Homo sapiens: one gene and its partner. The protein of the gene in region 1 interacts with the protein of each later gene in a pairwise test. Each region holds a gene or a part of one and is shown in the gene's direction. Other genes may lie near its edges.

What was found.
Region 2: the proteins of TRIP12 (region 1) and MTNR1B interact in binary tests that used the Homo sapiens proteins (3 or more experiments, as listed by UniProt).

What each region holds. Positions count from the first base shown.
Region 1 is NC_000002.12:229,920,149-229,923,894, reverse strand, and holds the start of TRIP12 (E3 ubiquitin-protein ligase TRIP12), read left to right. Parts: upstream 1-1,885; 5' UTR 1,886-2,015; intron 2,016-2,105; exon of another isoform or gene 2,106-2,624; intron 2,625-3,746. Other genes in the region: FBXO36 (F-box only protein 36), read right to left, coding at 1,286-1,381. UniProt on the Homo sapiens protein: E3 ubiquitin-protein ligase involved in ubiquitin fusion degradation (UFD) pathway and regulation of DNA repair.
Region 2 is NC_000011.10:92,967,825-92,971,570, forward strand, and holds the start of MTNR1B (melatonin receptor type 1B), read left to right. Parts: upstream 1-1,826; 5' UTR 1,827-1,901; coding exon 1,902-2,124; intron 2,125-3,746.

The sequences.
Region 1 (3,746 bases):
GCGACAGAGCGAGACTCCGTCTCAAAAAAAAAAAAAAAAAAAAAAAACAACACCAAAAAAAAAGTACAGAAAAGGATACCTTTCAGTATTTCATACATCACTAAATGTGCAAAACCCCCTAAGAACAGTTTAATTAAAAATTTGAGTCTGACCCTGGGCCCACTGCCTATGAATTAGCCCTGCTCCGCAAGGAGCAGTACTGTTTTAAAAAAAATTTTTTTTGGACAGGCTGATTTTACATTTGTAATATTTCTAAATCTTAAATTAAAAAATATATATTAACATTTATATTTTAAAAGATGCTTTCAAAAATATAAAAAAATTAACTCATTACCTATTTTGTTTAAGGGCTCCTGGAAAAACTGAGGGAATGATCAATATGCACACCAAAACAAATATATACAAACTTCTAAATTTCATTTTATAGGAATAGTATCTATTGAAAGGGCAGGGTGCATGAATAACTCAGTGACAGGCGTAAACTCAGCCAGGATTAGAAACGTCTTCCCAATGGAGGCCCCGCTCAAGTTGAGAATTTCATGGACACAGTAAATCATCCAAAAGCCCACCTTCAATAACCAAAGTAGGCATAAAAATAGGCCGATGGTTACTTTGGAGATAATATAATCCTCGGTCTTATTGTTGTGGAGCAGATGTCATTATGGGTGGGGCTGAAGCGCAGAGCAGCTGAAACATTTTTATACCACCACCCGCACACTTTCAATGGGATAGAAGGGACTCCAAAAGGTAAGAGCTCCCAATCGTCAGTTGCTACTAGAAATAACTAAGTTTTGATGTGGCCGTGGCACGCGTAAAGGCCACAAAGAGATTTATAAAATTCTCCATGATTAATTCCTATCCTGGAAAAGAGGCAATCTCCTTTTCCCCTCCCTAGCCGGCTCCTCCTTGGGACACTTGGCTGAGTCGTTCTTTCCCTCCTTCTCACGCTGAGGTGAGGCCGCACGCAAGCCGGAGACGCCCGTTTTCCTCTTCGCGCGGAGGAAACTCTACGGGTAAGAAGCCGGGGTGGCGGGAAAGGAGCACGCGGCACCGCGGGGAGGCAGAGAAGGCTTGCCAGGGACTAGCCGGGCTCGGGGAGAGCAGGGACACGCGGGCCGTCGGACCGAGGAGGCCGAGGTGACGAGGAAAATCTCCCGGCGCGGAGCCGGGACTGGGCGCTTCCGGCGGGCTACGGTTGCTCTTGGCCTAGCACAGCCTGCGTCCCGGGCCCCAACCGGGCCAGGTAGGGAGTTAGGAGAGAGGGTAAACCGCGGCTCGCACTTGCCTGAGACCGGGTGACCAGTAACTGGTAATAGTCTTTGCTAGGCGGCGGGCCTTGTCCTACAGTTTCAAAGAGAGTCTCCGGCAGCCACGACGCCATCTTGGGACGCCACCGCCGTCGCTAAGACAACCAGGAAGGGGCGGGGCTTGGTTGGGGTCAAGGGGCCAAAACCCTAGTTTAAATTGAACCACGCTTATGAGCTGGCAGAAGGATTTCTAACTTGGGGCGATCGTCCCCTCTTCCAAGGGTCTTAGGGAACCCTGATCCGTGAAATTTCCAGCTCCAGGTCCCGGGTGACCCGAGGGGGAATTAGTTCCTGCTACCACGGAGGGGAGGGGGTGACCCCGGCGGAGGGATACCAAGTAGATCTCCACAGTCCCCTTCCTGGTCCCTCGAAGGGATCGGGCGGAGATCGGAGGCTGCTGAGAGAGTCGAGCCGGGAGGCGTGGGAGGGAGGGGCGATGTGATGGGCCGCCAGTAGGCAGCGGTGCCGGTCCCGCGGACGAGCCCGTAACCGGAGCCCGAGGACAAAGTAGTTCCCCGAGGGTGTCAGAGCAGGCGGGGAGGGAGGCGGCACGGGCGGAGGCGCACGCCGGGCGCGGTGCTGCGGCTCAGCTGATAATTGAAGGAACCCGGAGCCGCCGCCGCCGCGCCGCTGGGGGGGGTGGGGGGAGCTAGTGGAAGTTACTGCCGCGCCACCGAGTCCGGACCGGAGACTTTGGGGCCTAACTAGGTAATTGGGGCGCAGCTCTGGGCGGCGGGGGCAAGCCTTGGGGGAGGGGGCCAGCTGAGGGGTTGGGGGGGCGGGGGGAGGAGCTGGAACAGAAAGTCCCAGGAAGCCCGGTTGTGTCATCGCCGCGATTCGGCCCCCGCTTGGCCTGCTCCCGGCGCCGGCGGCGGCGGGGCCGCGGAAGGACCGGGCCGGGGGTGGACGGGAGAGACGCTCGAGGGCGGCCGCGGCCGGAGGGACCGGGGCCTGGCGGGAGGTAGGGGTCGCTGGGTCCCTCCTCCGGCTTCCCGCAATGAGGAGGGCCCTTCACAGAACCGGGGTAAGGCTTGCGGGTGTTGGGGAGCTCGGCGGGGACCAAGGGGGGCCGGAAGTGGGCTTTGGAGCTTGGAGGGTGTCTGGGAAGAGAGAAAGTGGGGGGCCGGAAGTGCAGGTGGGGGGTGTGAAGACGGCAAGGGTTCCCCGGAAATGGGACGAGGGGCCCGGAAATCGGGAAAGGGGAGGCTCCGGGGCCGTGGACGGCCCGGAAATGGAAACTAGGAAGCAGCTCCAGTGACAACAGTTGTGGGAAGCGAGGGTCAGAGAAGGGAGAGGCCAGAGAGACTTTAGACCGCAGTAAGGGGTTTCCTGCCCAGGGGGACGGCGAGGGACGGTTGAGGGAGGGCGAGCCCGGAGACGGGGTCTGCGCGGGGCAGTTTTTTAAGCCGTGGGAAGTTGAGGCTGAGGGAGGATGATGACGAGGGGGGCATGCAGGGAGGCCTAAAGAAGCCGAGAAACTTGACTGAGAGGAATAGAGTATCCTTTTAAATAGATCAGAATGGAAATTGGTGGTAGGTGGGTTTAACTAGGACTTGGGGGAGGGAGGTGGGCCAATTGTCACCCCAATCGTATTAGCATTCAGAGCGAGTCAGGCGATTAATTTATTTATATGTGGATTACATAAAACCTATTATTTACAACGTTTGTCCATCAGTTCAGCCCCTCTCCTTCCTTCTCCATAGTGAGTGGGTTTCTAGTACAGGAACAAGTTAGAGGGGAGTTCGAATAACGAAGGTAGTAAAACCTCAAATCCTGTCTTCCTCGGCGTCTCTCCCTTCCTCAGAATAAGAAATCCTTCATTTCCTAGACGGAAAAATGCGGAAAAACATAAAAACACATGTAAATCGGGGGGAAATCACACTTTGAACTCCTGGTGGGGGACAGGAGGGAATTGGTTACCTTACGTGGTGAGGAGATAACGGAAGGGGCAGCTTCCAAACCCTTAAGACAAATGTTGTGTTTTTTTGATAATGCTGTTTTACTTTGGGGGAGGTTTAGCCTAAGCATCGAGTCTGGTGGTGGGCATAGTTTAATTGCTTCTTTAGTTAATTGGGGGAGGGAATGTGTTTGTGTGTAAAGGTTGGGCCGGTGCGGGGGGAGGCGGGTACGGTTAATAGCGCAGTGAATCCGTTCTAAGTGGACGTCTAACTGCTCTCCTGCTGTCTCCTTTCCTAGTCGCGGTCCTCGATCTTGCCTGGGCTGCCAGATCACCCGATCTCCGGGCTTTACTCCGTTTTGTAGGCCCTTTAGTGATGTGTTTAACTTTATGTTCCTCTCGAGAGTCTCATTAGGTATTTTTGGCATTTCATTTTTTAAAGACCTAGCAAGTTGAGTCTCAGAGTCTCCTCTTTAAAAACAAAACAAAAAATACGGGGTAGAAAGTTGAAAGAGCTATTGAGTGGGGTAAAACGACGCTCA
Region 2 (3,746 bases), on another chromosome or scaffold:
GTCTTCAAATCTCCTACACTGTTCCCCTGAATCCTGGCTAATGGGTAGCCTCTATCTCCCTGAGAATACAGAAGCCAGACAAGAGTTCTCTTCTTTCCTCACACCAGTTTAGAAGTGCATCTGAATTTGCATCTGGCTTCTGATTCCTTTCTACTACAAGAAAGAAAGCCTCCCTCTCCTAACAAATAATATTTCTTCCTTGGGTTTTGGATGAGCTCACTTTAAGGAGTTCTGGATTAGCTCACTTCAAGGATGAGCTCACTTCACCTCTCCCTTCCCTCTCCCTTCCCTTCAACATCCACTCATGCCTCTGCATCATCAGCCCCTCCGTCTCCACTGCATCCTTCCTTCTTTTTTTCCCCCCTTTAAAGGAGAGGGGCAATATAACTTACGTAAAATAACATATGTAAAAATAACAATCCAGAAATTTTTTGGTGTTTGTTTCTCAATACCCACCCTCAAATGTAACCACTTTTCTGATTTCTATTAGAAAATAGATTAATTTTCCCTGATTTTGGACTTCCTATAACTGGAATAATATGGTATATATTTTTTGGTATCTGGCTTCTTTTGTTCAATACAACATATTTGTGATTAATCCATGCTGTTGTGTAGGTCAATCATCTTTATTGCTGAGTAGTATTCCATTGCAAGGTCATACCATAATTTGCTTATCCATTCTTCTGTTGGTGGAAATTGCAGGTGTTACCAGATTTGAGCTCCTATAAACAAGGCTGCTCTGGACATTCTTGTACAGGTCTTTTGGTGGAAATATACTTTCCTTTTCATTTGGAACTTCTGGTCATAGAATAGGTGTATATTTAACTTTATTAGGAGCTAACAGACAGCTCTTCAAAGTGGCTATACCATTTTGCATTCTCATAAAAGCAGTGTATGAGGGTTCTGGTTGCTTAACTTCCTCCACAAATATAGGATAATCAGTCATTTTGATTTTAGTGATTCTAATGGGTGTGAAAAGTGCTTTGGGGTCATAAGATTAGCCCCCATTAGAAGTTATCTATTATTATTATCACCAGATCACGACTCAAACATTTTTAATAAAGGGCACCTGAGTTCCTTCTTTATTGTAATCATGCCTCAATCTTCTTCTTGTCCTAACCCCTCCAAAAACCACATCATAACCCCCAATATTGGCCATACATCTATTTAAGTATTATGTGTAAATATATGTTGGTAAATATGTTAAAGTATTGGCTTTATAAAGAGGACCCAGTAGAGACATCATCAATGCCCCCCACAATACCCAGCGAGTGCTTGGAAAATGGCTAGGTTCGTATTTTTCTGCAGCTCCCTAGAATATAACAGTCTACCCTACTTTGTTCTGGGCTCTGTCCCCACATCTTAGGAGTTGCATTCTCTTTCGGGCTGCACAGCCCTATGGGACGTCAAACCTTGCCTTTCTTGACAACTGATGGGAGGTCCCTACCATCAGCACCTTCTCCAGTCTATCAACCTGGGTTGGACGTCCCTACCTAGACACAGCTTCTCTTGGGGACGCTGTGGAGGAAATCGGGGTCTCGGGTGTGGCTATATACTCAGGGACAGAAGCTAGACGCGCTCCGCAGCCTGAGGTGGGCCAGGCACCTGCTGGGCTCGGGGTGGCAGAGACAGCTGTGCGGTCCCAGCTGTTCCTGAGCGCACCGCTGAGGGACGCACTCCCTTCTACAACGGCTGCACCCCAAGTCCTCCTCCCATTCCTATATTTTTCTCCATCCCCTGCCCACGCTTAATTAGTTATCTCCTCCAGACCCCTCCCCACTGGCCTCCTCCCTTGCACACGCGAGCTGGGCAGGGAAGAGAGCGCCCGGCTCAGTACTGCGCGCGCCCTGCGGCTGTCCGGGGCCGCGCGGTGGCCAAAGCACAGCGCGGGAGAGTCTGCGATGTCAGAGAACGGCTCCTTCGCCAACTGCTGCGAGGCGGGCGGGTGGGCAGTGCGCCCGGGCTGGTCGGGGGCTGGCAGCGCGCGGCCCTCCAGGACCCCTCGACCTCCCTGGGTGGCTCCAGCGCTGTCCGCGGTGCTCATCGTCACCACCGCCGTGGACGTCGTGGGCAACCTCCTGGTGATCCTCTCCGTGCTCAGGAACCGCAAGCTCCGGAACGCAGGTGAGCACCATTCCTGATGCTGGGTGCTGGCATCGGGCCCTTCCTTGTCTTCTGATCTTGTCCCTGACCCCGGGATATGCGCTGCCTTTTCCCTCCTCAGCCCGGGCTCCCCTTTCCCTTCACTCTAACCTATTCCTTAAGTTTGACTCTGCACTCAAAAGTTAGGGTGAGTTTTGCCCCTCCGAAGTGCGGCTGCCCAGGACGCGCTTGGCACAGAGGGAATTGCGGAAAGTTTTACTGGCGCGCTTTTTGGCCGGGCGCCGGCGCTGTGGGAACCCACGCTGCTGGATGCCATCGCTACCCCGTCGCGCTCCAATGCGTGTCTTTCCAGAGGTGCCCACATCAGGCCACAGAAATCTCACCACCTGTACTTGACATCCCACTTCCTTCCTTGCCAAGCACTGTAGCTTTATGTAGTAGTCGCTTAGAAAATCCTTGCTGAAAAAATGAGTTAATCAATGGAAGCATTTCAGTAGGTTTTGTGTCAAAAACTTATCTCCAGGTCATCTGAAGACCCAATTCCAGTTGACGGAGAGTAAATGCAGAAATTGCAGATTCTGCTTGGACTGAACTAAATTGCTTTGAAATATTGTGGTCTTTTCCGAAGACTGGGAATTCCTGGGATTAACTGTGAAAATTAAAGCAATGATTTGGCTAAATCGTGTTGTAATCCTGAAAATATTTTTCCTATTTCAATCCACTCTCATTTCAATATTCCCCTAGTCAGGTCTTCAAAGAAACAAAACCAGAGTGGGGGGCAGTATCTGAACTCTAGCCCTCACAGGTCATGGGGCATGATGACCACTTCAGCTTAGGAAGGAGCTCAGTCACCTGTTTGTTAATTTTGCAGTTTCTTCAAGTTGGGCCTTGGGAGCAAATTCAAATATTAGAGTGAATTAAAATGGAAAGATAGCAGCAGTAAAACAACCATATAGCTTAAAAATGCTTTTCTAAGGAGTCAGACCATTTTTAGCAAATAGTAATATGTATTTGGTGTGGCCTGTGACTCTAGAAATTTTTTTTTTTTGAGATGGAGTCTCTCACTCTGTCACCCAGGCTGGAGTGCAGTGGCATGGTCTAGGCTCACTGCAACCTCTGCCTCCCAGGTTCAAGGGATTCTCTTGCCTCAGCCTCCCGAGTAGCTGGGATTACAGGCGCTCGCCACTACACCCAGGTAATTTTTTATATTTTTGGTAGACACAGTATTTCACCATGTTGGCCAGGCTGGTCTCGAACTCCTGACCTCAAGTGATCCACCCGCCTCGGCCTCCCAAAGTGCTGGAATTACAGGCATGAGCCACTGCGCCCGGCCAACTCTAGGATTTTTAGCTAAAAAAACAAACAAGAAACTCCTCCAACTGTGAGTATCCAGCCATCATATGGGAAACATAACATTATTAAGAAGAAGTAAACTTTCTAACTCACTTCAGTAGTGGTGGCTGTTTTCTGGAATACATTGTTCAAAATATTGTGTCCTTTGAAGAAAAGCTTATATATTAGGGAAAAACAGGTTATGATTAGAAAACTGCATTTAATATTTTTGACACATTGTCCCTTGCAGCCATCATAAACATTCATTTCCAGCACAGGGAAGCAAAAGGGAGACAACTCCTGGCTCTATG